2 linked regions of the Homo sapiens genome follow. The protein of the gene in region 1 purifies or fractionates together with the protein of each later gene. This does not show direct contact. Each region holds a gene or a part of one and is shown on either strand. Other genes may lie near its edges.

Evidence for each region. Proteins that work in one complex are often made in the same cells at the same time.
Region 2: the proteins of NCF2 (region 1) and USP47 purify together in Homo sapiens (affinity purification with mass spectrometry; 2 studies listed by BioGRID and IntAct, with this or other methods). This does not show direct contact.

Annotation. Positions count from the first base shown.
Region 1 is NC_000001.11:183,569,733-183,573,483, forward strand, and holds part of NCF2 (neutrophil cytosol factor 2), read right to left. Parts: intron 3,561-3,751; coding exon 3,453-3,560; intron 1,108-3,452; coding exon 1,048-1,107; intron 1-1,047. UniProt on the Homo sapiens protein: Subunit of the phagocyte NADPH oxidase complex that mediates the transfer of electrons from cytosolic NADPH to O2 to produce the superoxide anion (O2(-)).
Region 2 is NC_000011.10:11,935,972-11,939,722, reverse strand, and holds part of USP47 (ubiquitin carboxyl-terminal hydrolase 47), read right to left. Parts: intron 3,421-3,751; coding exon 3,213-3,420; intron 1,467-3,212; coding exon 1,351-1,466; intron 1-1,350. UniProt on the Homo sapiens protein: Ubiquitin-specific protease that specifically deubiquitinates monoubiquitinated DNA polymerase beta (POLB), stabilizing POLB thereby playing a role in base-excision repair (BER). Acts as a regulator of cell growth and genome integrity.

The DNA.
Region 1 (3,751 bases):
CATGTGCCACCACACCCTGCTAATTTTTGTATTTTTAGTAGGGACAGGGGTTTCACCATGTTGGCCAGGCTGGTCTGGAACTCCTGGCCTCAAGTGATCTGCTCACCTCAGCCTCCCAAAATGGTGGGATTATAGGCGTGAGCCACTGTGCCTGGCCACTTCTGAGTATTTAAAATTGACACAGGATCCACTGACTGGGCAAGAATCTCCTCCCCTGTTCTACACTGAATACCATGGAATCCAGTTACCTGGGCTGCATTCCCCTCATGGCCTCTGGCTGAACTGAAGCTCAAGGGACTTCAGCAAGGCTTTCATCAGCTTTATTGTGAAGAAAGAGATCAAGGAATCTAGATCTGGAACATACCTGCCCCTGCTCAGAAAACCGCCCTCTGCTAGTGCTGACCAACACTCTTGCCCATCACAGGTTCATTGCCACAGAGTTCGTATTTTCCTTAATGTGTTTTCCCCTCTTTCCTTCACAAGGAAGCTCTGTGTGCATTTCTAGATCCACTATCATCCAGTTCATCTGAGCTCACCTCTCCAAGCCCAGCTTGGGCAGAAAAAGGGTTCACTCTCAGTGCGCTGCCTGTGTTCCCGAAGGAAACCCCTGCACATGAGCAGATGGGTAGAGCCAGGAGAGCCCAAACCTCAGGCCCAGGCCCCACAGGGTTCCCCACTTGCCCCTGTACTCAAGAAGAGGCTTTGTTAATAAGCCTTCCATAGCTTGTGTTTCAGCTTCCTGAGAGAATAGTTGAGGCTTCAGAGAGAGGATCAGCAGATCTCTTTAGAGATGTGAAGACCGGCATTTGTGGGGAAGCAGGAGAGTTAGCTTCAGAGGACTTGGGGTGAAGCCTGACACTGCCTTATTTCCTCACCAGCCATGGAAACCAGGACTGAGAGAGGGCAGGCAGATCCCTCAGCTGCACTGAGGGCCACTTGAAGGAGCCCTTACAATCAGGCAACTCAGCACACATAGTCTCTCGAATTGAATGCTTCACAGAAAGCTCTCGAGACCTAGGTCCATGGAGAAGGTCAGGACTGCCTTACCTGTGGTTGCAGAGGGGCAAACCCAGAGAAACTGTCTTGATCCACCACAGATGCCACGACCTAAAATCAAGGACAGGAGGGTGTGAGGCTCTGCCAGCACTGTTTCCATTCTTCTGGGTCTCCCTCTTTGCTCATGCCCTAGACCTGTTCTTACGTGAGCCTGGTTTCAGACGTGGACAGTAACTAAGGATTAGATTCCTGAGCCTCTGGATTAGGATTTCAGCAACTGAAGAAACGAGCATTCACCCCACCCCTGCTAACACAGGCTTGCTTTCTTCTCTCTTAAAAAAGAAATGTTTTTAATTGAGGTGCAATTTGTATAACATCAAATTATCTTTTTTTTTTTTTTTTTTTTTGAGACGGAGTCACGCTCTGTTACCCAGACTGGAGTGCAGTGGCGTGATCTCAGCTCACTGCAACCTCTGCCTTCCAGGTTCAAGTGATTCTCCTGCCTCAGCCTCCCGAGTAGCTGATATTACAGGCACCCGCCACTGTGCCCGGCTAATTTTTGTATTTTCAGTAGAGACAGGTTTTCACCATGTTGGCCAGGCTGGTCTCAAACTTCTGACCTCAGGTGATCTACCCATCCAGCCTCCCAAAGTGCTGGGATTATAGGCATGAGCCACCACGCCCAGCCCAAATTAATCATTTTAAAGTGAATGATTCAGTGGCATTTATCACATTCACAATGCTGTGCAACTACTGCCTCTCTCTAATTCCAAAATATTTTCATCACCTCAGAAGAAAATGCTGTACCCATTAAGCAGTGTGTCCACACTCCCCTTTCCCCTAAACTGGCAACAACCGGTTTGCTTTCTGTGACTGACTTGAGCCCTCTTCTCTGAGTTTTAAAAATCAGATGTAAAGCTAGCTTTATTCACAAATATGCTTAAACTATAGATAATTTTCATCATTCATTCATATAATCAAAACATTTTTGCTGAGAGCTGTTATGTGTCTAGCACTGTGCCAGGCTGTGAGGACTCAGTGGAGATCAAGCAGACATGGTCTCTGCTCTCTCAGTGCTTAGAGGCTGCACCAGATATTTCCTATAAACGGAATTGTACAACATGTGGCCTTTCGTATCTGGCTTCCTTCACATAGCATAATGTTTTCAAGGTCCATCCATGTTGTATCATGAATCATACTCCATTCCTTTTTATGGCTACGTAGTATTCTGTTGCATGGATATATCACATTTTGATTACTCATTCATCAGTTGATAGATATTTGGAGGGCTTCCACTCACCCAGGCTTTCTTGACCTCTGCTGCTATGCTAGACCCAGCTACCCGACCACTGGGCAACTTTAGCCCTATGAATGTGTCAAGTCAAATGTGGTTTTGGAAGGGCACTGCTGACTCACTTCAGACCATGTCTGAAAGAATTTAAGACTTGGATTTATTATTATTATTACTATTTTGAGATGGAGTTTCATTCTTGTTGCCCAGGCTGGAGTGCAATGGCATGATCTCAGCTCACTGCAACCTCCACCACCCGGATTCAAGCGATTCTCCTGCCTCAGCCTCCCAGGTAGCTGGGATTACAGGCATGCACCGCAGCACCCAGCTAATTTTGTATTTTTAGTAGAGATGGGGTTTCACCATGTTGGCCAGCCTGGTCTTGAACTCCTGACCTCGTGATCCACCTGCCTCAGCCTCCCAAAGTGCTGGGATTACAGGCATGAGTCACCATGCACAGCCAAGACCTGGATTTAGAAGAAGTCCAATTTAAGACATAGTCTAAACATAGGGCTGTGGAAGTGGGGAAAGACTCCTCAGCCCACTAAAACGTGAACTACAAGGAGCATTAATCCAAGAGGATCCCATGCTGATCTCTTTCCCTAACATGTTCTCTTCATATTTATTTTTATTTTTTAGAAACAGAGTCTCAATCTGTTGCCCAAGCTAGAGTACAGTGGTGCAATCATAGCTCACTGTAGCCTTGAACTCCTGGGCTCAAGTGATCCTCTCACCTCAGCCTCTCCACTAGCTAGGCTGGTCTCAAACTCCTGGCCTCAAGTGATCCTCCCACTTCAGCCTTCCAAAGCACTGGGATTACAGGCATGAGCTACCCTGCCTGGCCCTCTCTTCACATTTAGTGAGCTCCTCATGGCTGTGTTTTCCCTCCATTGGCTCAGTCCCTAAGACTCAGCATCCTGTGAGTAACCCTGTGGCTCTCACCCAGGGTCGAGCTGGAAGGGAGAAATGGGAGCAGCTTGGAGAAAATAAACTAGACATGGTTGCCTATCTTTCAGCCAAACCTCTGTCCTATAAACAAGTCTCTCATTGCCATCCCAGGGACAGAGCCACAAGGAGGCTACCCTCTTCTCAAGAGTCCCTCCCACCTTGCTCCACATGGCCCGGGCCACAGGAGACTCAGGGGAAGCTGAGCAATCCCACCTACCGTCGCCTTGCCTAGGTAATCCTTCTTGGCCAGCTGAGCCACTTGTCTCTCATTTGGTCGAAACAGCTTGCCCACAGGGATCACCACTGGCTCATATAGCTTCTGCTTCTGTAACACAGAAAACGTAGCATTCCCTTATGTGAAAATGGGGGTGACGATGCTTGTCCTGCCTCCCTCAGTGAATAGATGCAAGAATTCATTGAGATAACCACATAGAAGCCCTTTTCCAAATGAGTGTTGTCATTCCTCTAGGGTGTTAAGGTAGGAACCCTTGGTTTCAATACCACCTTCTGCTGCGA
Region 2 (3,751 bases), on another chromosome or scaffold:
ATTAACTTCTTGGGGAAGAAACTACTGTGTCTCTTTCTTTTGTATTATGTGTGAGTGCTTATTAAACTAATTTTTTTTACATTTGTCATTCATATTTTAAAAATGTAATATACAGTATATTATACCAACATAGTATGCATTTACAAGCAATTTAATCATAAAATATAATTTCACAAAATGATTTGTTTCTTGGTTATTACTTTAGCAAAATTGTTAGAAGTCATATACAGAAGTCAAAATATAGACTTTTTTTTAGAACATAATAACCACCAACTCTTACATAATGCCTTACAATTTTTTTCCTCAGAGCATTTATTTATTTTTCATTAATGTTCACTACAACTCTGCTAAACAGGTATTTACAACCCCAGATAATGAGATGAAAGACAAGACTACCATAAGATGAATGACTGAAAACTGGACTCAACTTGTAATTATGGAACAATTTCCACTACACCAGGGAATATTAACCTACGGTTCAAGAACCCTGCAAAATCTGCCGTTTGTATGCTCAGGGTTCTGCAGAGTACAGGACCCTTGTAAGGATGATAATCATTTGTCTGGTGTGGACTAATCCTTTTGCCCCCCAAAATTTGAATGTTTTCATTGTTATATTTTTCCAGCTCAAAAAATCGGAATGAGCCTATGTTCTTTATCACTAGCTCACATAATGGCACCAGTATTTAATTCATCACCTTCCCTGTCAAGTCTACAGCCTCACCTTCCTCCTCTATTTCTATTAATGTATCCCTACTTTTCTGGTTACCCAAGTTTGAAACCCCTGGCTCAGGTCATCGGTGCATCTGCTTTACCCCAACATTTAACAATTACAAGTCCTACAGATTCTATCTCTCTTGGAATCCATGCCTTCTCTCATTTCCAGTCATACAACTGCACTTGAATTATTTCAACAGCTTCCTCCTCTCCATTCCTGACTCCCCTCAAGGCATGTGGAACGCTAGTCTAGTGTCACCAGACACTAAATGCAGCATTGCCGCACTTAAAAATGACGAAAACAAAAACTCGACTTATTGCCTACGCCAAAAAGGAGCCCAAACTTTCGTGTTTACTGTTTAAAGCTCTTCATGAAATAAACTGTACTTACATTTCCAATCCTGTATTTTATGATAATCCAGCCAACACATATAAGTTGTTATATGTACTTGCCTTACACTTTCTTACCTCCACACTTTACTCAATCTGTTTCTTTTAACTACAGTTGTCTCCTAACTACAAATATTAATTAGCTCCTGGAGGTAAAGCATGTATCTTATTCATAACTGTCACATAGTGTGTCTTGTACATAGCAGGCTCTCAAAAATTTATTTACAGACCCCTTTTAAAACTTACCTTTGAAATCAGTTGTTTGAATTCTGTAACTGTCTGATTTAAGTAAGCACGAACAGTTATAGGAGCAGCTACAGATTCTGCCTTTAGATCAACAACATGAACTTTCACCATCACTTCTGTCACATTTGAAGACATAAACACAGAATTGGAGGTTATTTTTTAATGTATTTCACATGAGTAATGCATTCTTAATGTGTTTCTAACAGGTGACAAATCCAAACTTCCAAGTACAGATGAAAACAACACTGAATAAATATAAATCACCAGTTACTGCAAAACAAATATTAAAGGTGACACAGCACTCCTGCTTGCTTTTGAACAAACCCCTTATTAAGCCACCTTGTTCATCATCAAAGACTTATCCTCAAAATAATATTTCCTATATCCCAAGGAAAATTCCACACAAAAACTGTTCTGATTATGCCTTTGTTTTCTCACTTAAATCTTTTATATTGAAATTTAATCCCATTCTCTTCTGTTTTCAGAAGGTTATGTTTACAATTAAACTCTTAATCACTTGAAAAATAAATGATCTTCAAACATTGTACTTAATACACAGTTATTCTGTATCTGTTTTAACCTCATGTTTTATGTCAATCCTCAGTTTTTTCCCTACGTTGTTAATCTAAATTTGACAAAATATTCTGCTAAGATCTTGATTATTAATGAATAAAGACTACTTTATAAGTCTTACAATCCACACTTGCATTTAGAGTTCTCTTTCAAATAAGTGGTATTACTGCTGACTCATGTTATATCCTAATCATTCTTTTTCTTGTCTAGCAAAAAAAAAAAAAAAGCAAGGAAATGTCCTTAAGGGACTCTTTATAGATAGGGTAGAGTCTTAGAAGTCGAAGTAGACATCATAAGGTTTCCAGAAATAAAATTTTCCCACTTAAGAGCCGTAGACTCCTTGAAAGAATACTACATCTAACCTACTCTGTAAACAGAGGCCTTCATTTAAAAAGGAGATATACAGGATCCACAGAAGAACATTATTGTAAAAGGGCAGAATAAAGTTTTGTAAGTTCAACTTTTAGGGAAAAAACACAGAGAACCTAATTCTCACTAACCACTGATGCAAAGGAGTTAGGGCCAAGACAAAACAGTATGGATTTTGTAAAATTATATAAACATTCTGCTTTTCTTCTATTTGTTACAATTTACATATGGTAATTATAGAAAACTCTGGACAAAAACAGACCATGTAACTGTCTATAGGGAAACTGTCTCTGGGAAAACTAGGGGCATGATATTTTGGTTTTCCTAAGCAGTCTCAAAGAAAAAAAAATAACAAACTCAATGTGCTGAGTGAATGTGATAGATTTAATGAAGAAAGAAAAGATGAAGTCCCTGGGACCTGTAGAAATAGAGAGGATGACGAAAAATTGTAAATGCTGACAGTGATGGGATAATGAATCCACCCTTCCAAAGAAGACCTGAAAAACAGCCTCTACTTCTGAGACTTTATGGGAATATACTTTTTTGGACCAAGGTCTTCTCCATAAAGAGAAAGAAAGAGAAAGAGAGATCTTCCTAAGAGAGCAATTGATAACTTTAGGGATTGACAGCATCCAGAATGATTCAGTACCGCCCACTGGAGAAGAAAAAACCCACTGAAGACCGTAAGCTAGAAGCTTTGTTGTTTTTTGTTGTTTTTAAAATTATGTACACAACTCTTTGCAAGTAATCTAGAACTTAATTCCAAGCTGTTGCTGAGTACTTCTCAACCTGTCAAAATTATTCTACATTTTAAGACCATATACAAAATTTAAATTATGTTCATTTCTACAATAAAAAAAAAAACTTTCTCATGAAAATTCTAAGTACAGAACAACTAAAAATAGTGTAAAATTGCTCACCTCCAGGTTTATAAGATTGGAAAACCTGATCAGGCTTTCTCGTCTCCAACAGCAGATCAAACATATATGTTGACTTGACGCCACCTAGTAGAAGCCCCATTGGTGTATCTTCTTCTCCTTCATATGACCGTTCTAGATAATCATGAAACTCATCATATTTAACAAGGCGACAGCAATCCAGGGGTATTACCTCTTCTAAATCCATCATCTAAAAGAAAGTAATCCCCCAGAAAGAAAAAATATATATACATATATATTTATATATATACATATATAAATACACAGTGTTTTAGTCTGTTGGGGAATAACATTACAATAGGCCCTAACAAAATCCACACATTTATGATTTGCATCAAAGACATCAAAGTTACAGGCACAACTTAAATGTTATTTTTAAATAATTATGTTTCATTATCCCTCCAATCATATAAAGCATGTACTAAATACATTTTTTATTTTTTAAAAAGTTAACATCATAAACTTTAGGTGTAGAAACAAAATCAATGTATTGTAACTATTGTTCATAATCAACTAATCTG